Regions from separate parts of the Homo sapiens genome. Here all the other regions are reported to be linked to region 6. The links are microRNA targets in miRTarBase. Many come from high-throughput screens and were not tested one by one. Region 6 holds a microRNA gene; each other region holds the end of a gene's coding sequence.
Evidence for each region. Region 6 holds the annotated microRNA hsa-miR-6873-3p (UUCUCUCUGUCUUUCUCUCUCAG, at 1,165-1,187, shown strand). A microRNA usually pairs through its seed, bases 2 to 8, with sites in the 3' UTR of a target mRNA and lowers its output. Matches are read on the target gene's strand: a 7mer-m8 pairs with bases 2 to 8, a 7mer-A1 pairs with bases 2 to 7 and ends in A, and an 8mer does both.

Region 1 (4,000 bases), not on the chromosome of region 6:
AGAGCCAAAAAGGGTCTCTCTGTTAAGAGGGGGGTATTTTTAATAATTTGTTTCCAGCTTCGGCTTAGGTTTTTATTAGCGCAGCTGAACCAGCTTTAGGATAAAGGATGGGGTTCATATAATGTGGGGAAGGGTCCTGCTTACCCCTGAAATTTTGAGACTGTCGCTAGCAAAGAAGGGGTGAACAGTAAAAGGAGCTTTCCGGGGCAAAAGTGCAACCGCTCTCCTCCCTCCCGGGGCGAGCGGCCGCCTGAGCCCAGCCAAGGGTGAGGCACTAGGAGCGAGCAAGAGACAAAGCCGGGCGCACTGGCTGCCTGCAGAAGTGGGGGATGCAGTAGAAAGGGGTGCAGAAATCGAGCTTGAATGTGGGCATCTGGAGTAGAGAGGATTGGAGCTGTGGTGAGCTGGGTGCCGGGACGCCTGGGTCCTGCTCCCCCGCCCCCTCCCACCCAGTGCCCCCTCCCTTAACCGGAATAATGTTGCCTTGCGGCTTTCCTCTATCTGCTCCAGATATGACCGGGCCGGACGGGAAAAGGGCCCGGACCGCGTATACCCGCTACCAGACCCTGGAGCTGGAAAAGGAGTTCCACTTCAACCGCTACCTGACCCGGCGACGGCGCATCGAGATCGCCCACGCACTCTGCCTGTCCGAGCGCCAGATCAAGATCTGGTTCCAGAACCGGCGCATGAAGTGGAAGAAGGACAACAAATTGAAAAGTATGAGCCTGGCTACAGCTGGCAGCGCCTTCCAGCCCTGAGCCCGCCCAGAGGAGCCCAGCGGCCCAAGAGCCCGTGCCACCCCCAGCCCTGGCCCCTCCAATCCTCCCCGCTCTGCCGCCGCCCGCTGGGGACCGGTTCCCACAAGCCTGCCTCGCCTTGTGTTACGATATTTCGTTTGGTCTTAGGTCTTCCTGTGGCTCCCTCTCTCCTGGACTGGTTATCTTGTTATTATTGTTAATAATAATTATTATTATTATTTTCCTTCCATGCTCCCAACTCCCTTCTGCTTGTCCCAAATCCGCCAGTGTTTCTGAATGTTTGTGTCTGTGGTTGCAGTCTTTCCCCCAGGAAAAAAAAAAAAAGAAATTCGCATGTTTAATGTGAACTCTCCCCTCCCCATCTGTGTTCTAACTTATTTATAAAAAGATGATCGCTGTATTTTGAGTTTCAGCTGGAAACTTCTGTAAGGGGCAGCAGTTGAGGTGGGGTAGTGCCGCAGTGGGGTCAAGCTGAGCTGGCTTCGGAGATGGAGTCCCTTTTCATTCTCCTCCTCCTCCCTCCTCACTCCCTAGGCCCAAGTCTCCTAGGGGCTTGGTCCTAGGGTGGGAAGGGGCTAGGGAGGACCAAAGGGATGGTATTGAGAAGAGAGAAAGAAGATAGTGAGATTTAAGTTCCTGCTGCCTGGGTAGGCCCCACAAGGCCTGGTCTGGGAGTATACGGAAACAAAAATGATCCTCAGTGCAAAATGTCTTGTGTATTTCTCTGTGAATCCATGGGTCTGGCTAGAGGGCCCAAAGCTTGTAAATATGGGGATAGTCTGGGTCAGACCCATCTCTCCCTTACCCATCTTGCTTCCAAGACCATTTGTAGTGAGCGAGTGGATGCTGTGCTACGTGTGAAATCTGTCTTTGCGGGGCCTGTCTCAGTGATTCGCTTTTGGTATTTGTTTGTAGCTTTCCTGGAAGTCAAATAAATGTTTCCCCCACTCCATTGCCCTTCCACTTGTCTTTTCTCCGAGGGGTCTGCCTCTCCCATCCCGGGCACACCCTGCACCATTCTCAATAGATCTGGGGTGCAGGGAAGAAAAAGTAGGCTGCTCCCCAACAACTCTTCTCAGCCATGTAAGTCACTGGCTTGGTCAACAGTGCTTGGGCCAGGGAACAGACCTTCATGCCTGGGGGACTCCAAGGCCCAGAAACCCCATGTGGGGCTGGGGCAGAGGAAAGGCTGAGCTAGACTTCATCCTGGTCTTCCACTAGCTGGCCAAGGAAGCCTCTGGAAAACTCTTCTGGGAAAGTAATTTGGGCCTAAGTCCTCAGCAGGAGGCTCCTGGCCTTTTGGGAGTGGTAGAGGCCTGCCCAGCCCCCTGTCTCCTACTCCAAGTCCCAATTCAGCTCTGCCACCAACTAAAGCAAAAAAAAAAAAAAAAAAAATTCAGCTGGATTTCAAAGGATTTCTCTCACCCTCAGCCTTCCCTACCCTTATCAAGGGCTCCTTCTCTCCAAGGGCCCAACTGATCTTCCCTCTTGATTAGGAGTTAGGGTCCTTTCAGAAAGACCCCTGGTTCCCTTTCAGCCTGGCCCAGGGCTAGGGCCCAGTCTACCTCCATCCAAGTCAGCCTCCACCCTGAGCACAAGAGTCAAGTCTGGACACTTACCCGGTCAATCCCTTCCAGCTTGGCCCAACTTCTTACTGGACTTGGAGGGAGGGGGAGCTGGTGAGGAGGAAGCCGAGGGTCGTGGAGGCTCTACTTGGCCCTCCTTTCCCTTCACCCCTTGACTTTGTCTCCCTTTGTCGATAGCAAACTATCCCAAAAGTCGCTATGACATTTAGATGTCAAATGGATAGGGGTTTTATCTCGAAGTTAGATCGTAAAAATCGCCGAGAAGTCAGACAGATACCCCTCACTGGCTCGAGAAAGTCACGTGAGGTCCATAAAGTTAGTTTTATGGTTTTGGGGAGTTGACACCGCGCAGTATATTTCACATTCTCCAGAATGTTAAGTGACACTTTAACTGCTCGCTGTGGTGGGGAAGGGGGCAGAGGTAGGTGAGCACTCTCCCAGCCTGGAGCAGCCGGACCAGCCCAGAAGGCAGCGGCGGCCCAGGCCAGCATTCCCGCAGTAAGTCGCTTTCAGCTTTCGCTTTTACCCCTTGCAATTCTGGGGCCTGGGACTGGGGGAAGAAAACTTGTTTCCACCTGGGGCTGTGGGGTGATGTAGGGGAAATTTAGCCTGTTTTATGCACCCAGTTCTAAGGGACTGGGTGCCTGAAATGAGTGCTCTCAGTTTCTTAAGGCCTCATCGGTCGGGGGTGCCTGATTTTTACCAACAGGAGTGTCTGACTTTGTGGGGAAAAGGGTTTGTGTGGGGGATCCATGCTCCCTCAGTGCCAGCGGAAATTTAGGGACCAGGAAGGAGGGGTGTATATTGCTGAAAGAAGGGGCCATTGGTGGGGGCCACTTCACTGCTGGATATCTTCAGACAACTATCCCCCCATCCTCCGGAAAGAAACTTTATGACATTCATTTGTCGGAGGTGTGTGGGGGTGCACCGCTGGGCACTTTTATCTGGATACATCTGAGCTGAGAAAAAGCACCGGGTAGGCGGCTGCTGTGGGCTACCTTGCCCTGGGGTGATCTCTGGCTTTCCGATCTTTGAAGCCCATAAAAAGAGGTCCCTCCGGTTATCTTTGGCTTCATCAGGCTTCTCTGGGATGGGGAGCACAGCGCTGCTTTTGCCTCCACCTTCAGCCTGTTGGTCTCAAGCTAATCTTTCTCCTTGGCTCGAAGTAGGATCCTGAAGTCAGACTAGGGAGCAGACAGAGAGGGCAATTCCCCCAATTCAAAACCTAATTCCTGAACCAGGAGTGGGGGAAGGGAAGAGCTTCTTCTCTTGCCTAGAGGTGTTAGGTGTTTAAGTAGAACTCTGGCAAGCCCTCCTCAAATAAAATCAGCTCAAGAATACAAATCCCTCAACTGTCGGGAGGAAATAGATTCAGGAGCTGGAAGAGAAAATAGGAAAGGTGCTCTTTTTTCCTCTCTTTTTCCCTCTTCTTTTCTGGGCACACCCTCAAAGTCCCCTTTGTTTTGTAGAACCATAAACCAGAGAGACTTCAGGATTTGATCCCCAGGGGTTCTGTTATTTTCTAGGGAAAAGTCACCCTTCTAAAAGTCAGAGGCTTCTTCCCCACCAAATTGACCCCCCTCCAATTTAACACCCGTGGGGCTAACTACCCTGTCACTCCTACTTTCACCAGCCTGCCATCCCTTGATTCAGCTC
Region 2 (4,062 bases), not on the chromosome of region 6:
TAGTGCTAGAGGGGATGCCTGGAAGTAAAGAGGGGTCAGCGCAAATAGAACCTTCACGGGGCTTGATGCTGACCACCGGAGTGGAGGTGGGCGAGACCACCAGGGCTTCGCCAGGCAACCATGTGCGCATCCAGGAACTCCATGCCTTCTCTCTGCAACCACAGGCCTTGGGCTGAGACCACTCCAGCAAACCCTTCTTTCTCCCTCTTCCAGGAAACCAGCAAACGTCTCGCCAACCAGATCCCATTTATAATTCAGTATTTTATGCTCCGAGAGAATGGTGACTCCTTGCAGAAAGCCATGATGCAGATACTACAGGAAAAAAATCGCTATTCCTGGCTGCTTCAAGAGCAGAGTGAGACCGCTACCAAGAGAAGAATCCTTAAGGAGAGAATTTACCGGCTCACTCAGGCGCGACACGCACTCTGTCAATTCTCCAGCAAAGAGATCCACTGAAGGGCGGCGATGCCTGTGGTTGTTTTCTTGTGCGTACTCATTCATTCTAAGGGGAGTCGGTGCAGGATGCCGCTTCTGCTTTGGGGCCAAACTCTTCTGTCACTATCAGTGTCCATCTCTACTGTACTCCCTCAGCATCAGAGCATGCATCAGGGGTCCACACAGGCTCAGCTCTCTCCACCACCCAGCTCTTCCCTGACCTTCACGAAGGGATGGCTCTCCAGTCCTTGGGTCCCGTAGCACACAGTTACAGTGTCCTAAGATACTGCTATCATTCTTCGCTAATTTGTATTTGTATTCCCTTCCCCCTACAAGATTATGAGACCCCAGAGGGGGAAGGTCTGGGTCAAATTCTTCTTTTGTATGTCCAGTCTCCTGCACAGCACCTGCAGCATTGTAACTGCTTAATAAATGACATCTCACTGAACGAATGAGTGCTGTGTAAGTGATGGAGATACCTGAGGCTATTGCTCAAGCCCAGGCCTTGGACATTTAGTGACTGTTAGCCGGTCCCTTTCAGATCCAGTGGCCATGCCCCCTGCTTCCCATGGTTCACTGTCATTGTGTTTCCCAGCCTCTCCACTCCCCCGCCAGAAAGGAGCCTGAGTGATTCTCTTTTCTTCTTGTTTCCCTGATTATGATGAGCTTCCATTGTTCTGTTAAGTCTTGAAGAGGAATTTAATAAAGCAAAGAAACTTTTTAAAAACGTAGCCAGGTTCAGTGACTCATACCTGTAATCCCAGTGACTCTGGAGACTGAAGCAGAAGGATCACTTGAGCCCAGGAGTTCAAGACCAGACTGGGCAACACAGGGAGACCCTGTCTCTAAAAAAATTTGTTTGTAAGTAGCCAGACATGGTGGTGCACACCTGTAGTCCCAGCCACTCAGGTGGCTGGAGCAGGAGGATCCCTTGAGCCCAGGATTTTGAGGCTGCAGTGAGCCATGACTGCACCATGTACTACAGCCTGGGTGACAGAGTGAGAGTGAGACTCTGTCTCTGAATACACACACACACACACACACACATACACAGAGAGAGAGAGAGAGAACTTCACACCAGTGATCATCATTATGGGTAATTTTCTTTTCTTCTTCATGTTTTCCTGTATGTTTCAAATGATGAACATATAGATTCCTTAATAAAAAGGCAATAGAATAAATATCATTGCTGATTTGTTTTAAAACCCAAGTTTGAGATGGAAAGAGTGCCTCAAAAACATTCAGCTTTGTTCAGGGGTACAGACGAGAAAGATTACGTGAATTTCTTTCTTCATTTGCTGTAAAAGATGTTGGAAAAGAAAGTTCAAGTCAAAAATCACAGCTTGACCAGCATCCCCAAGAGCTCTCTTGCAGAGGTCTCTTTGATTTGTGTTCAAATGCTAGTGTATTAGTCTGCTATAGCTGCCATAACAAATATCACATGCTGGGTGGCTTAAGCTACAGAAATTTATTTCCTCCCACCTCCAGAGGCTGGAAGTGTCTGAGATCAAAGTGTTGCTAGTTTGGTTTCTCCTGAGGTTTCTCTCCTTGGCTTGCAGACTGCCACCTTCTCACCAGGCCTATGCTTGGCCTCTCTCTTTTCTCTTACAAGGATCCCAGTCCTCTTGAATCAGGTCCCCACCCTTAGGGCTTCATTTAAGCTTGATCACCTCTTTAAAGACCCTACCTCCAAATGCAGTCACATTGGGAGTTAAGGCATCAGCATATGAATTTGAGGGTGGGGGCATAATTTGTTCCATTACAGCAAGTAAGAAAATAGACATGTGCATTCTGAACACAAAACTCGAGCAATGACCAAAAACTTGGAAAAAGGTATCTCTAATTCAAAAGGCAGCAGATCTGGCCTGAAGCAAACCAGATGATCATGGAAAGGCTGACATTGATCGATTGCTTGCAATCCTCCAAACGTGGAATTTGGGAATATGTTCCAGTTATCTATTGTTGTGTAACAATCACCCCAAAACTTAATGGCTTAAAACAGCAGATGTATTCTTTCTCTGGATTCTGTGGGAAGTCTGTGTTGTTCCTCTGTGTGTCTCACCTGGGCTCACCCATGCGTCACAGTCACACAGAAGCTAGACAAGGCTGGGAGGTCCAAGGGAGCCTCACTCTTCAAACTACATTTCCATAAGGAACACTTGGGTTTCATTAGCACTGATTTCCAAAAGTAAGAATGTCAACCTAAAAGGAAGAAGCTGGCTATTTTTTTTTTTTCAGAGGGAAAATGGTGGGTAAGAAGCAGGACTAATGTGCAGTTTCCACTTGGATGGATAGAACAGCATGTGGAGACTCACATTGTGAGCTTTTTCTCCAAGAACCACCACAGGAACATACCAGGAAAACCAAAAGAATTCACAGACCCTTTGAACAAAGTGGCTTGTCACTGCAAACACTGTGAGACAGCCAAAAAACTGTGAGCACCCGAAATGTAAGAGGGGAAAGCATCTCCAAACACACATCCTCACTGGGGAACCCAAAAATCCAGATCAGAGGGGAAGGATTTAACAGTATCTAGAGCTGAAATAAATTTAGAGAGCCGAGTGAAATATAAAAGTAGTAGAAGCAGTGGGAAGAGCCCTGCAGGCACTCCTGGTCCCCAGGGAAACCCAGGGAAGCCATTTCTGACTTTAATCTCACAGGGGTCCCTGGGGAGGGCAGCCAGTGGAAGTGGGGAAGGGCCACAGGGAGGAGACTTCCAGCTGAACTTTGTAATAATGCTGACTGATCGTGAGTTTTCCTGGACAGCATCCAGGGCAGGGAGAAGGGGAAATGGGAAGTGCAGGTAGGAGCACAGAAGCCATGACGGGGAGGGGAGGGGCATGGCCTGAAAGCCCTGCTTGCTTTCTCAATAGGGAGGCTTGTAACCTGCGGCAAGATCTCAGTCCTGTGCACTACAGGCATGGATATAAAATCGGCTCTGTTGGATGTTGGGGGAGCATGGTGGGAGTGAGACTGGCCTTCTTGGCTGCATGGAAGCTGGATGAGACCTGTCACTGCCAGCTTTCCCTCACCTTCCTGGTGTCCTGTATGACACAGCAGAAGCAGACATAATCCCCCTGGGAATGTATCTCCATAAGCCTGAGAAGCACACCCCATCACTCACAGCAGCCATAACAAGCTCTGCCCAAGGAGAATCTGAGCTCAGACATGCCTAACCCTGCCCCACCTGATGGTCTTTCTCTACCTGCCCTGGTATTCAAAGACAAAAGACATAATCTCGTGGGAGCTCTACGGCCCCACCCATCACTTAAGAAACAGAAATACTTACCCAGGCAACCTTAGGGCAAGCTTGTATCCTCCCTATACTGTGGCAGCTATTGCCCTCTTTGTAGCGCCACCTCTTGGCTGGAGGCCAACCCACTCAAGCCATTACAGCAACTCATAACAGAACAACCCTGCCCCTAGAGAAAAAGAAAACAACAGCTAATTCCACTGCCTGTAATATCCTGGCTAGCCAGAGGTCCTGAATCTGTCCACATGACAACTTCACTGCTAGCATAACCAGCATTTGAGAAAACCAGCACACTAAACAAAATTACAAGCAAGGACACTCACAGAGCCCACTTCACTCCCCTGCTACCTCCACCAGGGCAGGTGCTGGTATCT
Region 3 (4,075 bases), not on the chromosome of region 6:
TCTAGTTCGTGATTTCCTCTTTAGCCTGGAGGAGGATACAAGCCTTGCCAAGGTTTCCCTCCTGCCTGAGCCAGGTCACTCTCTCTGTCCCTCCTGCCTGGAGCTGGGTCATTCTCTCTGTCTCTCCTTGTACAGTGGTCCATGCTGTGGACGGCACCGCCGAGAACGGGATCCACCCCCTGAGCTCCTCCGAGGTGGACGAACTCATCCACAAAGCGGACGAGGTCACGCTGAGCGAGGCAGGGTCCACGGCCGGGGCGGCAGAGACCCGGGGGGCTGTGGAGGGGGCAGCCCGGACCACGCCCTCCCGGCGGGAGATCACCGGTGTGCAGGCACAGCCAGGCGAGGCCACGTCCGGCCCGCCGGGGATCCAGCCCGGCCAGGAGCCCCCGGTCACAATGATCTTCATGGGTTACCAGAACGTGGAGGATGAGGCCGAGACCAAGAAGGTGCTGGGCCTTCAAGATACCATCACGGCGGAGCTGGTGGTCATCGAAGACGCGGCTGAGCCCAAGGAGCCTGCACCACCCAACGGCAGTGCTGCCGAGCCTCCCACGGAGGCCGCCTCCAGGGAAGAGAATCAGGCGGGGCCCGAGGCCACCACCAGCGACCCCCAGGACCTCGACATGAAGAAGCACCGTTGTAAATGCTGCTCCATCATGTGAGCCGGCCCCCGAGACCCCGGCCCCCACCCCACACCACAGACACCCACCAGCCCGGCCCCTCCCGGCGCCTGCCCACCCTCCACCCACAGCCTCACGGGTCCAGGACTTGGCGTGTTGTTACATGTTCCTTCCGAGTTTTCTTTCGCTGGAAAGAGGGACAGGGGCCCCCACCCGTCACCACGCCCCAACACTCCCCCCGAACCAGAGCCGTGCACTTGTGCCTGGTAGGAGAGAGACAGGACAGACCCGCTTTTCCCGAGACAAGGACCCCCCATGTCACGGCAGCTTCACAGACGCGGCTCGCGCCCACCGGGGTCCTGGCGGGTGGGACCCGCAGCCTCCACGCGGCCCAGGCCAGCCTGCCACCCTCTGGGCCTCCTACCTGTGCCTTTCTCTGAGGGGACACCCCGCCAGAGAGGGCCCCGGGAGCCGGGGGTGGGTACTGAGGCCTGCTCAGGCCCTGGAAGTGAGGCTCTATGGGGTTCCCTGGCCAAGGCGCTGGCCCCCCAATCTCAGGCAGTTGGGGTGAGGCCGTGCCTCTTTGGGGGCTAAAGGTCTTGGGTGGAGGACAGGCCCCTCTGCTGTGCCCCTATGCCCTGTGTGGGCCCAACCAGTGGACAATGGAGTCTGGGGGAGGGGGAACCCCGGGGACATGCCCCCACCCGGGAGGGGCCGGTAACCCCTGGGCTATCTTCTAGACGGGGCGAACCAGGGGTCATTGACCTGCCCCCTGCACAGGGCAGGGACCGAGTGAGCCACTCCTTGTCCCGAGCTCCCGCCCCCACTGGGCCCTCCTTCCTCCTGGTGCTAATTTGGGGACCCCAGGGGCCGCCCCCGGCCTCTTCTCCATCCTGCTTGGACCAGGGTCCTGGGTCTTCCCAACCATACCCCGAGATCAGGCCCCACCTGCCAGCTCTACTGGGCTTGGAGCACGTCCGGGCAGTGGAGGGAGGGACACAGCCTGGGACAGGAAGCCTCTTGGGTTGGAGCAGGAGACCCTCATTTGCCACCCAGACCAATGTGAGCCTGCCCCCAGCCCCCTCTCATTGGAAGTGGCAAGGGGCTTCCCTCCTGGGGGCAGCTACACTCGTCCCCAGAGGCACATTCGTGCACATTCTCACAGACACCGTCTCACACGTTGGCTTTGGACAACCAGGCCCCAACTTGGTCCCTGCCCTAGGGACCTCCAGCCTGGTGCCCAGTGCTCAGGCCACCTCCTGGTCCAGTCACCACCTGCAGCCTCGGCAGGGCAGGTACAGGGGCCACCTCGGATGGGAGCCTGGGTCCCTGCCTCCGCTCTGCCCCTGGGTGGCTGGGAGGAGAGGCCCTCTCGGGGGTGACCTGGGCGTCAGCCGTGGAACCCCCTCCTCCTCCCTGGAGTCTGCCTGAGTCCCTCGAGCCGCGAGCCTTCGCTGAAGTGCCCTTGCTATAACCCCCTCTGCTTCTGGTGTGTGACGAGGCCCCCGATGTTCTTGATTTTCCCAGAGAAGCAAATAAACAGCGTGAACAGCCCCAGTTCCTGGAGTTCTTGCCTTTCAACCTGGCGAGGAAGGCGTGGCCAGGCCAGGGGGTGGGGCCTGCCGGCCTTTGAGCCATTAAAGGGAGGCTGAGCAGGGTTGCGGTGTGCTGGCTTCACCTGCCTGCACCCGCTCACCCTGAGCGCCTTGGGGTGGTGGGAGGCGCTGGAATCCCCACTGTGCAGGTAAGGCCTGGCTGTAAGGGGCTGCTGTGGGGGGGCAGGACTGGCTTCCCGGGGGGCCCTCGGGTTCTGCGGCCGCCCCGTCCTGTCCTTTGTTCCTCCCTTTGCTGGGCTCACAGCCCCTGGGTGATGACAGAGGGTCCCCTGGACACCCACAAGCTCTGTAGAGAAGCCGGCCCCTGGGAAATACACAGGAGGCCTGGGGAGGAGGTGTCTGTAGAGACCAGTGTCATGCTCACGGGAAGGTGCTGCCCCGCCAGCCCCACTCTCTCACGCTGTAGTCTTGGAGAAGTCGCTGCCTCCTCTGGGCCTCAGTTTTCCCATCTGTAAAATAAGCCTTCGTGGCCGGGCACGGTGTTTCACACCTGCAATCCTAGTACTTTGGGAGGCCGAGGTGGGCGGATCACAAGGTCAAGAGATCGATACCATCCTGGCCAACATACTGAAACCCTGTCTCTACTAAAAATACAAAAACTTAGCCGGGCGTGGTGGCTCACGCCTGTAATCCTAGCTATTCAGGAGGCTGAGGCAGGAGAATCGCTTGAACCTGGGAGGCGGAGGCTGCAGTGAGCTGAGATCGTGCCACTGCACTCCAACCTGGGCGACAGAGCGAGACTCTGTCTCAAATAAAATAAAATAGGCCTTCGGAGCCCTGAGTGGGAGGCCAGCCTCAGCCTGGGCGTGGGACGTCTCCACAGTGCCCCCAGCTCATGGGCGATCCAGCCTCCACCCTGCTGGGGCCTCAGTTTTCCCCGATGAGGTGGTGAGTGTGGTGGAGAGCACTGCTGAGGGAACTCAGGTTCCAATTCCAGCCTAAACCCCCGCCATTCCTGAGGCGCGATTTTAAGCTTTCCGTACCTCCGTTTCCCTATCTACAAGCCAGGGAGAAAAGGACGTGAAGGGGGTGGCGGGAGGCGGCGGTGGGAGGCGCCGTGAGGCCGCGCACCCTGAGCTTTCACACACCCAGCAGCGTTAGGTGCCACGCTGTCCTTTGGGGGCCCTTTATCCAGATTTGTCCTTAAACACCCCCATCTTGGCCAGGCGCCGTGGCTCGCGCCTGTAATCCCAGCACTTTGGGAGGCTGAGGCGGGGGCATCACCTGAGGTCAGGAGTTCGAGACCAGCCTGGCTAACGTGGCAAAACCCTGTCTCTACTAAAAATACAAAAATAGCTGGGCGTGGTGGCTCATGCCAGTAATCCCAGCTACTAGGGAAGCTGAGGCAGGAGAATTGCTTGAACAGGGGAGGTTGCCGTGAGCCGAGATCGTGCCACTGCACTCCAGCCTGGGTGACAAGAGCGAGACTCCGTCTCAAAAAAAAAACACAAAAAAAGCACCCCCCTCCTGAGCAGCCCTGCTGGATTCGTAGCTGGGGGCCTTTTTACTCGAAGAAGAGACTGAGGTTCAGAGGGGCTCCACAAGCAGCCCCTCTGGCGTAGGTCAGGACAGAGCCCCAGCCTGGGGAACTGAAGTCCCTGCCCCCTCAGCTGTGTTCCCTGCCCTCATAGACGGCGCTAGGCCCAGTGGCCCGACTTCCCCACAGATGCTGGGCTCCCCACAGTCCCAGCAAGGCCTCTGCACCTTGACTAAGAATCCAGGAGGACCATGGGCGCCTGAGGGCCTCTGCGTCCCCATCTCTCGGGGTGGCCTGGGTCTTTTGACGGCCTCGTGCGGTTCTTTTTTTTTTTTTTTTTTTTTTTTTTTTGAGTTGGA
Region 4 (4,075 bases), not on the chromosome of region 6:
GGACAACCCCCCAGCTGGGCAGTGCCAACCCCTCCACCCCCCAGCCTGCCTCCCCTGATGTCAGCAGTAGCCACTCTTTGTCAGAATACTCCCATGGTCAGTCCCCTAGGAGCCCCATTAGCCCGGAACTGCACTCAGCACCCCTCACCCCTGTGGCTCGGGACACTCCGCGACACTTAGCCAGTGAGGATACCCGTTGTTCCACACCAGAGCTGGGGCTGGATGAACAGGTAAGGGACGCAGCCTTTGGGTGGGGTTGGCATGGTTGGGGGATGGAACCAGGAAGGGGCAGCATCTGCTGAAGAGGGACCTAGCCATCCCCTCCCCCTTTTGAAGGGACAAAGGGCTGCACTTAAATTGATCTCCTCAACGTTCAGTGGAACTGTATTGATCACTGCTAAATGATCAATACAGTTGTCTGGGTATACCCTAGGAGGGGTGTTCCCAGACTGTCGCAGGAACACTAGATAGACTGGTCCTAGGCTCCAGGCCACAAGGTTTGTGGCAGGGCCTTGGAGCAGGAAGCAGGCTGGCTGGGACTGGGTCCTCAAAGAGCAACTTGTCTGCCTACAGTCTGTCCAGCCCTGGGAGCGGCGGACCTTCCCCCTGGCGCACAGTCCCCAGGCGGAGTGTGAGGACCAGCTGGATGCACAGGAGCGAGCAGCCCGCTGCACTCGACGCACCTCAGGCAGCAAGACTGGCCGGGAGACAGAGGCAGCGCCCACCTCGCCTCCCATTGTCCCCCTCAAGAGTCGGCATCTGGTGGCAGCAGCCACAGCTCAGCGCCCGACTCACAGATGAGCGGGAGACAGCCATCTAAACAGACTCACTAACTATTGGCATTAAAGCTTCAGAAATCTCTGCGTTTGATATTCAAACATCATATGCCGGAAATTTTCACAGTTTTTAGTGAACTTAAGGAATTTAGATCCTACTTTGGTATTTTTTTTTCTTGTTTTAATTTTTGTTTTGTTTTTGTTTCCATGTTTTCTTGTCACACACCTGAGCACTTCCTCCCGTTGGCAAACAGAAGTTCAGGATGAGACCCTGCTGGCCTGGTCCTGGCACATCCTCTGCACTGTTGAATCACTGGACTTACTGATCTTAGATGACCACCCCCTCCCTCACACCTGTGGGCAGGGCAGAACAGCCTGGCGGGCTACAGTTTAGCATGGCCTTCTTGAGCTAGGGTGGAATGGGGCAGGGTGCTCTGGACTCTTACCCCCTCCCCTCCCATCTGTGGCTTGGCTCTGCTGTGGCCCTCCTGGCTGGGTCCCCTTGGTTTTTCGTGCTGGAACATCCCCACCAGAGCCTCTCTGCCATAACTGCCAGCTGCTCTCCCCGAGTGCTCAGCTGGCAGAACACCTTTCCTTTCTCACCCAGAACTTAAGAGACTGATTTTTTGTTTCATCTGCATTTGGTCTTCTCTGTTTTGACTCTTTCACTGCAGTAACCTGGCTGTGGCTGCTCAGGTTCCCCTCCTCATGCCCCTTGGTACCCTTCCCTGTCTGCTCTCCCATGCCATGTACACACCCACAACCCGTCCTTCCACTTGGAATATTTTTACCACCTATCCTGATCTTTGAAGGTAGGGTTAGGACTACTTAACCTCTATTCCCACTCCCCTGCAAACTGGGGGTTGTGGGAAGTGAGCAGCCATCTCCCTGTGTGATTTTTTTTTTTTTTCCCTCTGATTCACTTTGCCATGTTTCCTTCACATCCAGATCCCTGTCGGTGTTAGTTCCACTCTTGGTCTTTCACGCTCCCCTTGCCTGTGGAACATTGTCTGGTCCTAGCTGTGGTTCCCATTGTTCCCCCTTCACCCTTCTCTGTTAACCTTGTGCCTGTCTCCTGTATGATCACATCACCAAAAAGGGGGAGGGGGGAGAAGACTCTTTTTTTTTGGCCATTTTGTAATCGTATAAAAATAGTAGACAACTGCTTAATGGTTGGGGTTTTTTCACAATTTTCAACATTAGTGATTTTTTTTTCTGTTTGCAAGTTAAAGGGTTTGTCATTGTTTCTTTAAAAAAAAATACAATAATGCACCATATCCCTATGCATAAAGTGCTTCTTCTATTTATAAGGTTGAAAATTCTGAATAACCCTTTTAGCATTGAAAAAAAAAACAAAAACAAAAAATGGAAAAAAAAAACCTTGTATTTTGTAAATATTTTCTTTTCCTGCTTTGGAGCTGTGTAATGGCAGCGAAACATGTAGCTGTCTTTGTTCTATAGAAATGCTTTTCTTCAGAGAAGCTGATCTTTGTTAATGTCTTGATTCTGTTCGCAAAGCACAGACTAGTGCTTAAAAAAAAAAAAGAAGGAAAAATTGAAAAAAATAAAAAAAAAAGTTACAGAATGCTGTGTACCAGGCCTTTCTTGACTTACTGAACTGTGTATGCATGGTAGTGTTGGCAGTTTCGGAGCTGGCTCTCTGCCGCCGTTCTTTGGGGTACTCTGACTTGCTCTATACCTTGGAAAATCTCCATTCTGTCTTGTGGGAACGCCGCAGGTTGATCTGATGGCCACCAGAGAGAGAATGGTGGTGGCTTTTCACTGAGGGTAAGGGCTGCCAGGAGGAGAGGGGATCTGCATTGATCATCTCTTTTTTCTTTTTGTTGAGTGAAAGCAGTTGATGCACTTTCTCTCTAGTGAAGTCAGCTGTATGATATTTTCTATCTGTTCTAAGTTGCTCTTTAAAGGAGATTTTGCTTCTCACTGTTAAATTTTTCTGAGGTTTGGTGGGGTCAGTGAGATACATAATTTGCTTAGAGCCTGGATTGGTTCTTGCCTGCTGCCTGAGATTATAACATCTTTCTTCTGAGGAGGTTACACGCTTTTTTTTTTTATTGTTTGAGATGGGATCTTGCTCGATTGTCCAGACTGGAGTGCAGTGGTGCAATCTTGGCTCACTGCAGCCTGGATCTCCTTCCTGGCCTCAAGAGATCCTCCCACCACAGCCTTACCAGTAGCTGGGACTGTAGGCATGTGCCACCATACCCAGCTAGTTTTCGTGGGTTTTTTGTGGAGATAGTGTCTCACTATGTAGCCTAGGCTGGTAGGTGCTTTTTTTTTGTACAAGATGAATAAGTGGGTGGGGCTGGTTCTCCCTCTGCTCTCTTCTTTGCATGGCAGTCAAGCTGAAACAGCCAGTGAGGCTGTCTCTTGTGGCTCTGAAAGCCATGCTCTCTGAGATAGCACTTCTCTTTTGCTGGCCTGTTGCTGCTTTTGTAGCTGCAGTTAAAATCTGTTTTACTTAAACATCTGCCTGCGGTGGCAAACACATCAGGAAGAGCAAAGAAAAGTAGTATTTTGAAACAATCTAAGGATTCAGTATCATGACCTTGGCATAGTTACTAAGGAATAATATGATGGATTACTGTTTTGTTTTTGTTTTCCTTTGTGGCATTGCTATGAAGATGCTATCTGGTTATCCCTATCTTGGTTTAGCAGAAATACTCCTCAATCTATAATAAGGTACCAAAGGAAAGAAGGCAGCTCTGCAAACCTAGCAGGAATCTAAGCCATTCATTAAGCTGATTGGCTTGGTGTTCTGCTCCAGCCCCAGGCCTCTGGACTAAATTTCCAGGGATGAAAGATCCCATATCCTCATCCCCAACCTTCTCAGGTTTGCATACACTGGTGCCGGTCTTGCAAACTGAGTGCTGCATCGTGAGGTCAGCCACAAGGCTTTGTATTGCCCTTTGAATGGGACTAGGATGGTTTGCCAGCATCACAAAGAAGCAACTGCAAATGAGCAAGTCTGAGAACTCTCACCTTCAGGGCCCCAGAGAGAGCTGTTAATCCTGATGTCCAGCTTTTATTAATACTATCATTTCCTGTTCTGAGCTAAATTATCTAAGGGTGCGTGGGAAAGAACTTAAAAAATAGACATTCTATATGACTTTCTTGTCCTTGGAATCCATGAATGGAGACCTTATTTAATCAGAGTAATAACTTTATTTCCAAATTCACTTTTACAGCAACAGTCAGTGTAAATCATTTGTTAAAACACACAATACACTATATAGACATTCACAGACAGAAAGCTAAGCTAAGATGATTTCATGTCC
Region 5 (4,075 bases), not on the chromosome of region 6:
CTCCACTCCCGACAGGTGCAAGACTTCGGGCTGAAGCACCTCCTGGCCCTGGGGAGTTTGCGCCTCCTGTCTCTGGCAGGTGAGACCCCCGTTTCTGCTCTGACGCTGGCAGTGACCACCCACCCCCACTTAGTCCACCCGCCCAACCTGCCCGGTCCTTGTGCAAACTCACACCCGGCGCGGACACACAGTCCCGGGTCCGAGGCGGAGGAGGAGGGAGGCGCGGCCCGGCCGTCCCCGCCCGAGCCCTGGGCCGCGCGCACTGAGCCGCCCTCTGACCCCGCCGCAGGCTGCCCGCTGCTCACCACCACCGGGCTGTCGGGCCTGGTGCAGCTGCAGGAGCTGGAGGAGCTGGAGCTGACCAACTGCCCCGGGGCCACCCCCGAGCTCTTCAAGTATTTCTCGCAGCACCTGCCCCGCTGCCTCGTCATTGAGTAGCGCGAGGCCCCCGCCCCGGTCGCGGGAACCCGGCCATGACCTGGGCGGGGGCGCGGGGCGCCGCCGAGCCCCCTCTTCCCGCCTTGCGCTCGGGGGAGCCCCCGCGCCCCCGGCCCAGCGCGGGAGGCGGGGCGAGCCGAGGGAAAGCCCCTCCCCGACCTTCGGTCCCTCCGCCCTCCCAGCCCCGCCCCGGGCAGGGGGGCGGCGGGTGGGCCCGCCCCACGCACGCACGCACACTCGGGGACTTTGTGCATGCCCCTCGTGCCCGCACTGCACGCCGCCCTCCGCCACGCCACAGCCACAGCCGCCGCCATCACTCGCTCGCCCTCCCGCTTGGGGGGCGGGGCTCGGTCCTTGGGGGGGCTTTGAGCTCTCCAGACTGTGCCCTTACCGCCTTCCCCGCCACACCCGCTCTGTCTTCCCACTGTCCCCCCCATCCCGGGCAGGGCCCAGTGGGATTGAGGGGGCTGGGTCCCCCAGGACACGGGCCCAGAAGAGCCCCACGGGCTTCCTGCATCTTCCACCGCACCATACCTGGAGCCCTCCGAGGGGTGTCAGGGGAAACAGGCCACCGCCAAAGCCATGGCCCGCCGCCGAGAGCCCAGGCCCCACCCGCACCTCCTCACCCATCCAGCCTGACCCACGCGGCCTCTCCTCCTCCTTGCCGCTGTGTGGGGCAGTCCCCTGTCCGCCCCAAAACCCGGCCTTGGTCCCTGGCCAGGCTGAGAGAATTGGGCAGGGAGAGGGCGGAAGGGCTGGCGATCGCTTGGAGTCATTAACGTGATCCCAGCTGACTCCGGTCGGCCTCAACCCAGGGGTGGCGCAGGCACCTTGCAAGCCTCGAGCTGTAGCCACCCTCAGGCCTGGGAAGAGGCCTGGGCCGACCTCACACCTCAGCCCTTGCACCCGGCCGGGCTCAGTTCAGGCCTGGGCACCGAGCTTCACCCTGGGTGGGTCTCCTCAGGTGGAGTCTGCAGAGTGGACCCAGCCAAGGGTCAGGGTCAGCACTGGGTCAGCGACTCCAATCTTCCAGTGGCCAGCACACCCTAGACACCCCGAGGAGGGAGGGCTCCTTTCTAGCCTGCCCCCCCACCCCCACTTCACCCCTCCCCAGCTTCCCAAACTTCTGTCTGCCCAAATGGGCTCTGACCGTGCTCTGTCGGCCCGAGACATTTGGAAGTCCTGGGGGATGCTGGCAAATCTCAGCTGTTGCTGAGGAGGGGGCTGGGACCCCTTCCCATCCCAACCTTGAGCCCCAGGAGATACCGCGCCCACACCCAATCTTGGGACACTCCCTATCTGGTTGGAAGAGAGTAACCAGTTTCCAGAGAGCCAGAGAGTGAGAGAGAGAAAGAGAGTGAGAGAGAGAGAGAAAGAGAGAGAGAGATGCTGTTGAATCAGAAACAGATCAACAGCCCAAAGATTTTCCTGTCCCTGGAGTGCCAGCCCCAGGAAGCTCCAGGGCTGAGTGGTCAGGAGCCAGTTTCTCCAGCCCCTCCTCCCCACAACCCCTAGTGGGGAGGGGCAGCTGTCCATTTGCCCAAAGTATTAATGCAACTGAAGCTGTGATATTTCCAACGACTGTAGGAGGAAAAATTAAGGGGAGAGAGGAAAACAAAACCAACCAACCCCTAAAATCATTTTCTTATTGTACATAACGACCTCATTCTCCTGTATATGCGGAAGATATAACCTTATATTTGGTAAGTGTTTCTTGTGCTATTTTATCACGTGACCTGTTTATAAAAATATATATTAAAAAAGTTGTAAAAACATGTGTCTGAGTTGTTTTTAGGTCCCCAGACAGCGGTGTAGGTGGGCATATCTGCCCTGCGCATCCCAGGTCTCGGGATTCTCCTGTACCTCTTATCAGATTTATTCTTTCTTGCAACAAAGGGGTAGAGGCTGGATGCCGACATGGTAGAATGGAAACAGCAGTGACTACATGGAAGGCAGAGGACCTCCCATTCCTTAAAGGGAGAGACAACACTGAAGTCACTACACATAATATTCCCTCCAACATATCCAGACTCTAGCCCACCCTTCCAGAGAGGCAGAAATAAACCCTGTTCTATACACAGTAACAGGCAAGGACAAGGATGTCGCAAAAGATTACAAAATGCACCAATAGCAGACAATGGCTCACACCCAGGAGAGACAGAGAGGTCGAAAAAGGCAACTGAGGCTGGGCACAGTGGCTCACGCCTGTAATCCTAGCACTTAGGCCGAAGCGGGTGGATCACCTGAGGTCAGGCGTTCAAGACCAGCCTGGCCAACATGGTGAAACCCTGTCTCTACTAAAAATACAAAAAATTAACAGGGTGTGGTGGTGGTTGCCTATAATCCCAGCTACTAGGGAGGCTGAGGCTGAATCGCTTGAACCTAGGGGGTGGAGGTTGCTATGAGCCGAGACTGCGCCACCTCACTCCAACCTGGGCGAAAGAGCAAAACTCCGTCTCAAAAAATTTTAAAGAGACCGGGTGCGGTGGCTCACACCTGTAATCCTAGCACTTTGGGAGGCCAAGGCGAGTGGATCACCTGAGGTTGGGAGTTCGAGACCAGCCTGACCAACATGGAAAAACTCCATCTCTACTAAAAATACAAAATTAGCCCAGTATGGTGGCCCATGCCTGTAATCCCAGCTACTCGGGAAGCTGAGGCAGGAGAATCGCTTGAACCCAGGAGGCGGAGGTTGCGGTGAGCCAAGATTGCACCATTGCACTCCAGCCTGGGCAACAAGAGCGAAACTCCGTCTCAAAAAGTTTTTTAAAAAAAAGAACGAGAGCAACTGGTTGAACAGGTGTGTCAGGCACTGGGCATTCGGTGGGGATTGAGCCAGAATGTGATTCCTGCCTTGGTGGAATTCACACTCGTATGTGACCGACAACAACCAGTAAACAAACGAATGGGTGGTGACAAGTGCCGTGGAGGCCACAGTGATGGAGAAGCCCATTAGGGCAGTGGTCAGGGAGGTCCGCTCTGTGGAGGAGGCATCGCACGCACGTACAATGTCCCTGAGGCAGGAAAGGGCTTGGTGGGCTGGGAATGGGGGTGGAGGCTGCCATGGCTGGAGGTGGGCAGGGGAAGGCGGAGGCCAGGAGTTGGGGTTCATTCACAGCATAGTGGGAGCTGCCAGAGGCCTCAGGCAGAAGACCTGGTGCCTGACTTCTGTGCGGGTTTCTGATCAAAGGGGAAAGACGGACCCAGGAAAGCCGTTGGGAGGCTGCTCCCGAGGTCGAGGAGTGAGGAAGGAGGGGAAGACTGGGGGCACTCGGAACTTGTCTAGGGATGACCAGATGTCATGATGGACCTGGGGATTAAAATAGGTGATGGCATTAAAATACTGAAATTGAGACTTAAAAAACAGGCCAGGCGCGGTGGCTCACACCTGCATTCCCAGCACTTCAGGAGGCTGACGCCAGAGGATCGCTTGAGTTCAGTAGTTTTAAGACCAGCCTGGCCAACACGGTGAAACCCCGTGTCTACCAAAAATACAAAATTAGCCAAATTAGCCGGGCGTGGTGGCGGGCGCCTGTAGTGCCAGCTACTTGGGAGGCTGAGGCGGGAGAATCGCTTGAACCTGGGAGGTGGAGGTTGCAATGAGCCAAGGTCGCGCCACTGTACTCCAGCCTGGGCG
Region 6 (4,075 bases):
GAGGAAACAAGTATCAAAGCTGCTCGTTCTGAGCTGCTGCTTGCTGAAGAACCTGGGTGAGTGAGCCCTAATCTGGACCCCCATTCCCTGCCTTTTGGGACTGTCTTTTCTCGTTTTTATGTTGGTATACTTGCTTCATATTGGGAAGCTTTACTGCCATCCTAACCCTTGCTTTCAGGTTTCTGGAAGGGGAGGATGGGGAAGACACAGCAAAGATATGCCAGGCTGACATTGTGGAGGCTGTGGACATTGCAAGTGCAGCCAAGGTGAGCCTGAGGAGGTAAAGGAGCCAAGGGATTGATTGGTGGTGCAGGACAATAGAGGAATGGGGGCTAGAAGAAGGCGTTACTGCAGGGCACTCTTTTTTTTCACTCTTCTCTTTCCCAGCACTTTGACTTGAATCTGCGGCAGTTTGGACCCTACAGACTAAACTACTCTCGAACTGGAAGGTAAGGTTGAATTCTAGTGACTCTTGAACTAAGATGTGTTTCCTTAACCACTTCAGCCATTCCCAGTGTATGTTTGGGTTGCTGATGAGGGGAGGGTCCTTCGATTTGCTTGGGTGTGAGGGTAAGCACCTACAGCAACATGTGTCTGCCCGCCTGGAGAGATGGGGCTGGCGTGGGGCAGACCTCAAGTTGTCTGAGTCGGTGGTCCCCTGCCTTAACACCCTGCCTGCCCCTCACCTCCAACAGACACCTGGCTTTTGGAGGGCGCCGAGGTCATGTGGCTGCCCTTGATTGGGTAACAAAGAAGCTTATGTGCGAGATCAACGTCATGGAGGCGGTGCGGGACATCCGGTCAGTGGCCTCACTGTCAGCGGTCAGTTGGGGTGAGATAGTCCATTCCTGATTGAATGATAGCCTGTGACCTCATTTCCCAATTGAACCACTCTTCCTCTCCCCCAGGTTTCTCCATTCTGAGGCACTGCTTGCTGTTGCTCAGAACCGCTGGCTCCACATCTATGACAATCAGGGCATTGAGCTCCACTGTATCCGCCGCTGTGACCGAGTAACACGGCTTGAGTTCCTGCCCTTCCACTTCCTCCTGGCTACAGCTGTGAGTGGCCATGGAGCTCAGGAACTGGTTGGAAGCCCTTGGGATGACCACCTCTCCTTTAGGACCCCAGCAGAGGGAATACAGAGGGCAATCAGGACTGGGTCATTCTCTCTGTCTTTCTCTCTCAGTCAGAAACAGGGTTTCTAACCTACCTGGATGTGTCAGTGGGGAAGATTGTGGCAGCTCTGAATGCTCGAGCTGGGCGGCTCGATGTTATGAGTCAGAACCCTTACAATGCCGTCATCCATCTCGGACACAGCAATGGTCAGTACCTGGCTTAGTTTTGACTCTGACCATCCTGACTTGCTTTTCTTCTATATTTGTACTTCATGAGTCCCTTAAAGTTACCCTTTTATTTCCCTTTTTTGTTATCTCTTGGTCTTGAGTTCCCATCTTTCCCATGTTTAGTAACCTCAGGCTTAGGTGTGTATTAGCAACTTTGGTTCTTCTTCTCTTCCAGGTACTGTGTCTTTATGGAGTCCAGCTATGAAGGAGCCACTGGCAAAGATTCTCTGTCATCGTGGTGGGGTCCGGGCTGTGGCAGTAGATTCTACAGGCACGTAAGTCACTGGTGGGGTGAGGTGTTAGGAGTCATAGGTGGGCAGAAAGGTGTGGAAGGCAGTGTGCTTTAGGAGCACAGAGTCTAAAGCCAGGATGCCCAGGTTTAAATCGCAGTGTTACCACGGATGGGCCTTGCAAGTATAGGCATATTTCATAACCTCTGTGTGCCACAGTTTCCTGACCCCGAAAATGGAAATATGAGTGTCCATTTCAAGGGTCCACAAACTTTTTCTGTAAAGAGTCAGATAGTAAATATTTTATGATTTGCTGATAAGAGGTAAAATCAAAGGGTACCATGTAGGCATTTAAATACCAAGAGAAAACAAATTATCACAACTTTTTTTTTTGAGATGGAGTCTCGCTCTGACACCCAGGCTGGAGTGCAATGGCGCAATCTCAGCTCACTGCAACCTCCACCTCTCAGGTTCAAGTGATTCTCCTGCCTTGGCCTCTCGAGTATCTGGGACTACAGGCGCCTGCTACAACACCTGGCTAATTTTTGTATTTTTAGTAGAGACAGGGTTTCAGCATGTTGTTCAGGCTGGTCTCGAATTCCTGACCTCAAGTGATCTGCCCGCCTCAGCCTCCCAAAGTGCTGGGATTATAGGCGTGAGCCACTGCGCCTGACCTTTTTTTTTTTAAATCTTTTGAGAGAGACGTAGTCTTGCTCTGTCTCCCAGGTTGGAGTGCAGTGGCGTGATCTCGGCTCACTGCAACCTCCGCCTCCCAGATTCAAGCGATTCTCCTGCCTCAGTCTCCCAAGTAGCTGGGATTACAGGCACCTGCCATCATGCCCAGCTAATTTTGTATTTTTTTGTAGAGACGGGGTTTTACTGTGTTGGCCAGGCTGGTCTTGAACTCCTGACCTCAGATGATCTGCCCGCCTCGGCCTCCCAAAGTGTTGGGATTACAGGCGTGAGCCACTGCGCCTGGCCCACACATTTTTAGGTTATAAAATTAAACGTAATATGGCCAGGTGCGGTGGCTCACGCCTGTAATCCCAGCACTTTGGAGGCCAAGGCGGGTGGATCGCCTGAGGTCAGGAGTTTGAGACCAGCCTGGCCAACATGGCGAAACTCTGTCTCTACTAAAAATTCACAAAATTAGCCGGGTGTCGTGGCGGGGGCCTGTAATTCCGGCAACTTGGGAGGCTGAGGCAGGAGAATTGCTTGAACCTGGGAGGCAGGGGTTGCAGTGAGCCAAGACTGTGCCATTGCACTCCAACCTGGGCAACAAGAGCAAAACTCCGTCTCAAAAACAAACAAACAAACAAAACATAATATGAGACTGGACACAGTGGCTCATGCCTGTAATCTTAACAGTTTGGTAGGCTGAGGTGGGCAGATCACTTGAGCCCAGAAGTTCGAAACAAGCCATGTCACCCATGACATGGCAAAACTCTGTCTCTACAGAAGATAGAAAAATTAGCCGGGTGTGGTGGTGCATGCCTGTAGTCCCAGCTACTCAGGAGGCTGAGGTGATCCTCCCACCTCAGCCCAGGAGGTTAAGGCTGCAGTGAGCTGTGATCATGCCACTGCACTCTAGCATGGGCAACAGAGTGAGACCCGGTCTCAGAAAAAAAAAATAATAATAATCAAATATATTTGTGTAATACAGATCTACTAATGGGAAGAACTGAATTTCTCTTTTTGAGGTTAACATTTTGCCTAATTGATGTACAAAGTTAGTGTTCCAGATGGTCAAATTTGACTGTAGATATTCATGTTCATGCTGATCTGTAGAGATTGCAAGTATTTCATCTTTGAAAACATCTTTTCACACAGGTAATGATAGGTGATATGTGAGGTGCTTGAAATGCTGTGAAGCACTTACGACTGTGTCACTGTGACTTGTAGTGTACAAAGCAGCAGTGCAAATCAGGATGCTGTAGTCGCTGTCGTGACCACTCGGCTGTGTGTTGTAGAGCAAAAGCAGCCACAGTATTAAGTAAATAGTGTGGCCCCGTTCCAATAAAACTTTATTTGTTGGATATTGGAATTTGAATTTCATACGGTTTTCACAGTCTCAAAATATTCTTTTGATTTTTTTTCAACCACTTAAAAATGTAAAAACCATTCTTGGCTTGTGGGCTATACAGAACTAGATGATGGGCCAGGTTTGGCCCATGGGCAGTAGTTTACCAAGCCTTGGTTTAAAGCCCTCATATAAGCTGTTGTAGACATTAAGATGAGTTAAGGCATATAGTTTAGCACAGCGCTTAGCAAAATAGGGAGCGCTGTGTTCATCATTGTCATTCAAGATGATCGTTCTCTCCAGGTCTGGCTGATGTGAGGGGTGGAGGTGGTGTCTGCTTTGGATTTCTGCTGTTCCTGAGGGAGTATCTGCATTTTCCACAGCTTTTCTGTCTGATTTGTATTTTCCTCTGATTCCTTTTGTCATCAGGTATTCACTGGGCACCTGCTGTGGGCAGGGCTCTGCGCTGAGGTTCTGGAGA
Region 7 (4,075 bases), not on the chromosome of region 6:
CAGAATTATGATGACAACATAGATCTTCTGACTCTTAAACCAGTGTTCTTTTCCTCACAACAGAGATACACTAAGTTCAAAAAGTTTTTTACTTAAATCTAAGGATTGGATAGTTGATAGAGTTAGTGTACTTTTGTTATTAAAATATGAGTGGAATGACAAAGTTCAGACATTTGCACACTTTAAGAAATGTTTATGGAACTTTGCTATTCTACATTTTTATTGCATTTTTGCAGTTTATGCCATTTATTGAAAATCACAATTGTAACAATTTTCTTAACTTCTGTACATGAAAAAATAACATTATTTGTTAATAATTTACTTTAAGATATTGAAACCATCTGAAAAGAAAGCTAAATACCAGTATGGTGGACTGAATTCTGGACGTCCTGTCACTCCACCTCGAACAGCTAATCCGCCGAAGAAAAGGTGAAGAAAGGAATTCTGTAAAGAAACCATCAGATTTGTTAAGGACATACTTCATAATATATAAGTGTGCACTGTAAAACCATCCAGCCATTTGACACCCTTTATGATGTCACACCTTTAACTTAAGGAGACGGGTAAAGGATCTTAAATTTTTTTCTAATAGAAAGATGTGCTACACTGTATTGTAATAAGTATACTCTGTTATAGTCAACAAAGTTAAATCCAAATTCAAAATTATCCATTAAAGTTACATCTTCATGTATCACAATTTTTAAAGTTGAAAAGCATCCCAGTTAAACTAGATGTGATAGTTAAACCAGATGAAAGCATGATGATCCATCTGTGTAATGTGGTTTTAGTGTTGCTTGGTTGTTTAATTATTTTGAGCTTGTTTTGTTTTTGTTTGTTTTCACTAGAATAATGGCAAATACTTCTAATTTTTTTCCCTAAACATTTTTAAAAGTGAAATATGGGAAGAGCTTTACAGACATTCACCAACTATTATTTTCCCTTGTTTATCTACTTAGATATCTGTTTAATCTTACTAAGAAAACTTTCGCCTCATTACATTAAAAAGGAATTTTAGAGATTGATTGTTTTAAAAAAAAATACGCACATTGTCCAATCCAGTGATTTTAATCATACAGTTTGACTGGGCAAACTTTACAGCTGATAGTGAATATTTTGCTTTATACAGGAATTGACACTGATTTGGATTTGTGCACTCTAATTTTTAACTTATTGATGCTCTATTGTGCAGTAGCATTTCATTTAAGATAAGGCTCATATAGTATTACCCAACTAGTTGGTAATGTGATTATGTGGTACCTTGGCTTTAGGTTTTCATTCGCACGGAACACCTTTTGGCATGCTTAACTTCCTGGTAACACCTTCACCTGCATTGGTTTTCTTTTTCTTTTTTCTTTCTTTTTTTTTTTTTTTTTTTTTTTGAGTTGTTGTTTGTTTTTAGATCCACAGTACATGAGAATCCTTTTTTGACAAGCCTTGGAAAGCTGACACTGTCTCTTTTTCCTCCCTCTATACGAAGGATGTATTTAAATGAATGCTGGTCAGTGGGACATTTTGTCAACTATGGGTATTGGGTGCTTAACTGTCTAATATTGCCATGTGAATGTTGTATACGATTGTAAGGCTTATGTCACTAAAGATTTTTATTCTGATTTTTTCATAATCAAAGGTCATATGATACTGTATAGACAAGCTTTGTAGTGAAGTATAGTAGCAATAATTTCTGTACCTGATCAAGTTTATTGCAGCCTTTCTTTTCCTATTTCTTTTTTTTAAGGGTTAGTATTAACAAATGGCAATGAGTAGAAAAGTTAACATGAAGATTTTAGAAGGAGAGAACTTACAGGACACAGATTTGTGATTCTTTGACTGTGACACTATTGGATGTGATTCTAAAAGCTTTTATTGAGCATTGTCAAATTTGTAAGCTTCATAGGGATGGACATCATATCTATAATGCCCTTCTATATGTGCTACCATAGATGTGACATTTTTGACCTTAATATCGTCTTTGAAAATGTTAAATTGAGAAACCTGTTAACTTACATTTTATGAATTGGCACATTGTATTACTTACTGCAAGAGATATTTCATTTTCAGCACAGTGCAAAAGTTCTTTAAAATGCATATGTCTTTTTTTCTAATTCCGTTTTGTTTTAAAGCACATTTTAAATGTAGTTTTCTCATTTAGTAAAAGTTGTCTAATTGATATGAAGCCTGACTGATTTTTTTTTTCCTTACAGTGAGACATTTAAGCACACATTTTATTCACATAGATACTATGTCCTTGACATATTGAAATGATTCTTTTCTGAAAGTATTCATGATCTGCATATGATGTATTAGGTTAGGTCACAAAGGTTTTATCTGAGGTGATTTAAATAACTTCCTGATTGGAGTGTGTAAGCTGAGCGATTTCTAATAAAATTTTAGTTGTACACTTTTAGTAGTCATAGTGAAGCAGGTCTAGAAAATAAGCCTTTGGCAGGGAAAAAGGGCAATGTTGATTAATCTCAGTATTAAACCACATTAATCTGTATCCCATTGTCTGGCTTTTGTAAATTCATCCAGGTCAAGACTAAGTATGTTGGTTAATAGGAATCCTTTTTTTTTTTTTTAAAGACTAAATGTGAAAAAATAATCACTACTTAAGCTAATTAATATTGGTCATTAAATTTAAAGGATGGAAATTTATCATGTTTAAAAATTATTCAAGCACTCTTAAAACCACTTAAACAGCCTCCAGTCATAAAAATGTGTTCTTTACAAATATTTGCTTGGCAACACGACTTGAAATAAATAAAACTTTGTTTCTTAGGAGAAAATGATTCTGTAATTCCAGTGTCACTAATTTATATTGTTCTTTCCTCTGATTTTTTTCAGGTTAGTGATTTTTTTGTATACAATTTAATCCAAATGTTATGACATTCAGAAATCATGAAACACAGTAGATATCTGTTATAATGTGGTGTATCACATGGATTATAAAGCAAAGTTATGGTCGATTTCTATTCTTGAAAGAATCAACTACAGTGAATCCTTTGCATTTGAAGCCTTAACATGCATTGCTTTAATTTTGCCCAGGGACAAATTTTAATAATCAGCAAGACTGGTTTGTGCAAAGCGTTGAGTCATCAGGTATTTAGAGCCTAGCCAGCTACCCAGTATCCATGCTGCCATATCCCTTCATTGTAAAAAGTACCTAAACATTCGTGAAATGATTTTTTTTAGCTGAAAAATGCTGGCAAGAAGAATTTTAAAGCTTAAAATAGGTGGTAAATTTGAAGTATGAGTGTGTTCACGAGAAACATAGGCTTTTCAAAAAAATTTTTATTCAAGGCAAAGCAAGGAACATCTTGAGATATGTCTCAAGAATATAAAGATGTATTATTTTAAGCCAAGGAGCTGAAATATATCTCAGTTTATAAATTCAGGTATATTCTTTTTGTCTCCATGGCAACCATAACTTTTGAACCAAAAAAAATTGTTTTTACATCTTTATGCTGAAAATGTGTTTAGATTAGGAATATGGTCGGGCTGAATTTGCTGTTGCTCCCTAACCAAATCCACCTCTTGTTTTCCTTGTGAGTCCATGGCTAAATCAAAGCTGCCCCTGAGAAGAGACTTAATCCAAGCCTGATTGTACTAGTGGCATCACTTAGAAGTAGGCTTTCCCTCTTCCTAGTAGATCTCAATGTTTTATAATTCCTTAAAACAGCTGAAAATTGGGACAACATACTTTACGCAATGAACAGTAGTTAAATAGGAAATAAACTAGTTCCATATAAGTATACACCTAGAGTTTTAATTACCTTTATAATGTTTCTTAAAAGTGAAACTTAGATACAATTGTGATTGGATACTTAGATACTAAGTGAAACTTAGTGTAACAATTTTGATCTGTTAAATTGGATTTTACATGTACATTTGAATGCCAGAATTTCTAAATAAATCCCCTGGTTAGGAAATTTTAAAAGTCAAAGCTTGTTTTCTTCAACCACTACCTTCTACATTGGTTGACTTAGACCGTAAGCTTTTTAAGTTTCTCATTGTAATTTACCTTCTCATGCAGATTGCTGATGTTTTATTAAACCTTATTTTTACAAAAATGACCATA

Region 1: the mRNA of HOXB5 is a reported target of hsa-miR-6873-3p. Seed matches in the 3' UTR shown: 8mer at 1,364-1,371.
Region 2: the mRNA of MX2 is a reported target of hsa-miR-6873-3p. Seed matches in the 3' UTR shown: 7mer-m8 at 1,488-1,494, 7mer-m8 at 1,490-1,496, 7mer-m8 at 1,492-1,498, 7mer-m8 at 1,494-1,500, 7mer-m8 at 1,496-1,502 and 8mer at 1,498-1,505.
Region 3: the mRNA of PALM is a reported target of hsa-miR-6873-3p. Seed matches in the 3' UTR shown: 7mer-m8 at 895-901.
Region 4: the mRNA of KANSL1 is a reported target of hsa-miR-6873-3p. The part of its 3' UTR that is shown has no 7-base or 8-base seed match.
Region 5: the mRNA of FBXL16 is a reported target of hsa-miR-6873-3p. Seed matches in the 3' UTR shown: 7mer-A1 at 1,163-1,169, 7mer-m8 at 1,781-1,787, 8mer at 1,783-1,790, 7mer-m8 at 1,799-1,805, 7mer-m8 at 1,801-1,807, 7mer-m8 at 1,803-1,809 and 5 more.
Region 7: the mRNA of PPP1CB is a reported target of hsa-miR-6873-3p. Seed matches in the 3' UTR shown: 7mer-A1 at 1,791-1,797.

What each region holds. Positions count from the first base shown.
Region 1 is chr17:48,588,967-48,592,966 of GRCh38, reverse strand. HOXB5 (homeobox B5) reads left to right here. Exons shown (of 2, transcript NM_002147.4): 2 at 511-1,710. The coding sequence ends at 758. It overlaps HOXB3 (homeobox B3), which reads left to right and starts at 2,726. Exons shown (of 5, transcript NM_001384749.1): 1 at 2,726-2,842. HOXB-AS3 (HOXB cluster antisense RNA 3) reads right to left here and starts at 2,547. Exons shown (of 3, transcript NR_033201.2): 1 at 2,378-2,547.
Region 2 is chr21:41,407,778-41,411,839 of GRCh38, forward strand. MX2 (MX dynamin like GTPase 2) reads left to right here. Exons shown (of 14, transcript NM_002463.2): 14 at 214-1,616. The coding sequence ends at 456. Among named protein-coding and RNA genes, the nearest start is that of MX1, 16 kb to the right of the region's middle.
Region 3 is chr19:746,150-750,224 of GRCh38, forward strand. PALM (paralemmin) reads left to right here. Exons shown (of 9, transcript NM_002579.3): 9 at 136-2,180. The coding sequence ends at 665. It also overlaps a transcript of MISP not described here. Among named protein-coding and RNA genes, the nearest start is that of MISP, 2.9 kb to the right of the region's middle.
Region 4 is chr17:46,028,202-46,032,276 of GRCh38, reverse strand. KANSL1 (KAT8 regulatory NSL complex subunit 1) reads left to right here. Exons shown (of 15, transcript NM_015443.4): 14 at 1-230; 15 at 574-2,361. The coding sequence ends at 801. MAPT (microtubule associated protein tau) reads right to left here. Exons shown (of 13, transcript NM_001377265.1): 13 at 3,943-4,075. Among named protein-coding and RNA genes, the nearest start is that of STH, 31 kb to the right of the region's middle.
Region 5 is chr16:690,638-694,712 of GRCh38, reverse strand. FBXL16 (F-box and leucine rich repeat protein 16) reads left to right here. Exons shown (of 6, transcript NM_153350.4): 5 at 16-79; 6 at 290-2,213. The coding sequence ends at 438. Among named protein-coding and RNA genes, the nearest start is that of WDR24, 2.3 kb to the right of the region's middle. RefSeq lists an enhancer at 3,887-4,075.
Region 6 is chr6:33,284,339-33,288,413 of GRCh38, reverse strand. MIR6873 (microRNA 6873) reads left to right here and starts at 1,125; the gene lies at 1,125-1,187. It overlaps WDR46 (WD repeat domain 46), which reads left to right. Exons shown (of 15, transcript NM_005452.6): 4 at 1-56; 5 at 179-266; 6 at 388-449; 7 at 696-800; 8 at 909-1,059; 9 at 1,188-1,323; 10 at 1,520-1,619. RefSeq lists enhancers at 115-648, 649-1,182.
Region 7 is chr2:28,798,871-28,802,945 of GRCh38, forward strand. PPP1CB (protein phosphatase 1 catalytic subunit beta) reads left to right here. Exons shown (of 8, transcript NM_002709.3): 8 at 329-4,070. The coding sequence ends at 433. Among named protein-coding and RNA genes, the nearest start is that of SPDYA, 9.9 kb to the right of the region's middle.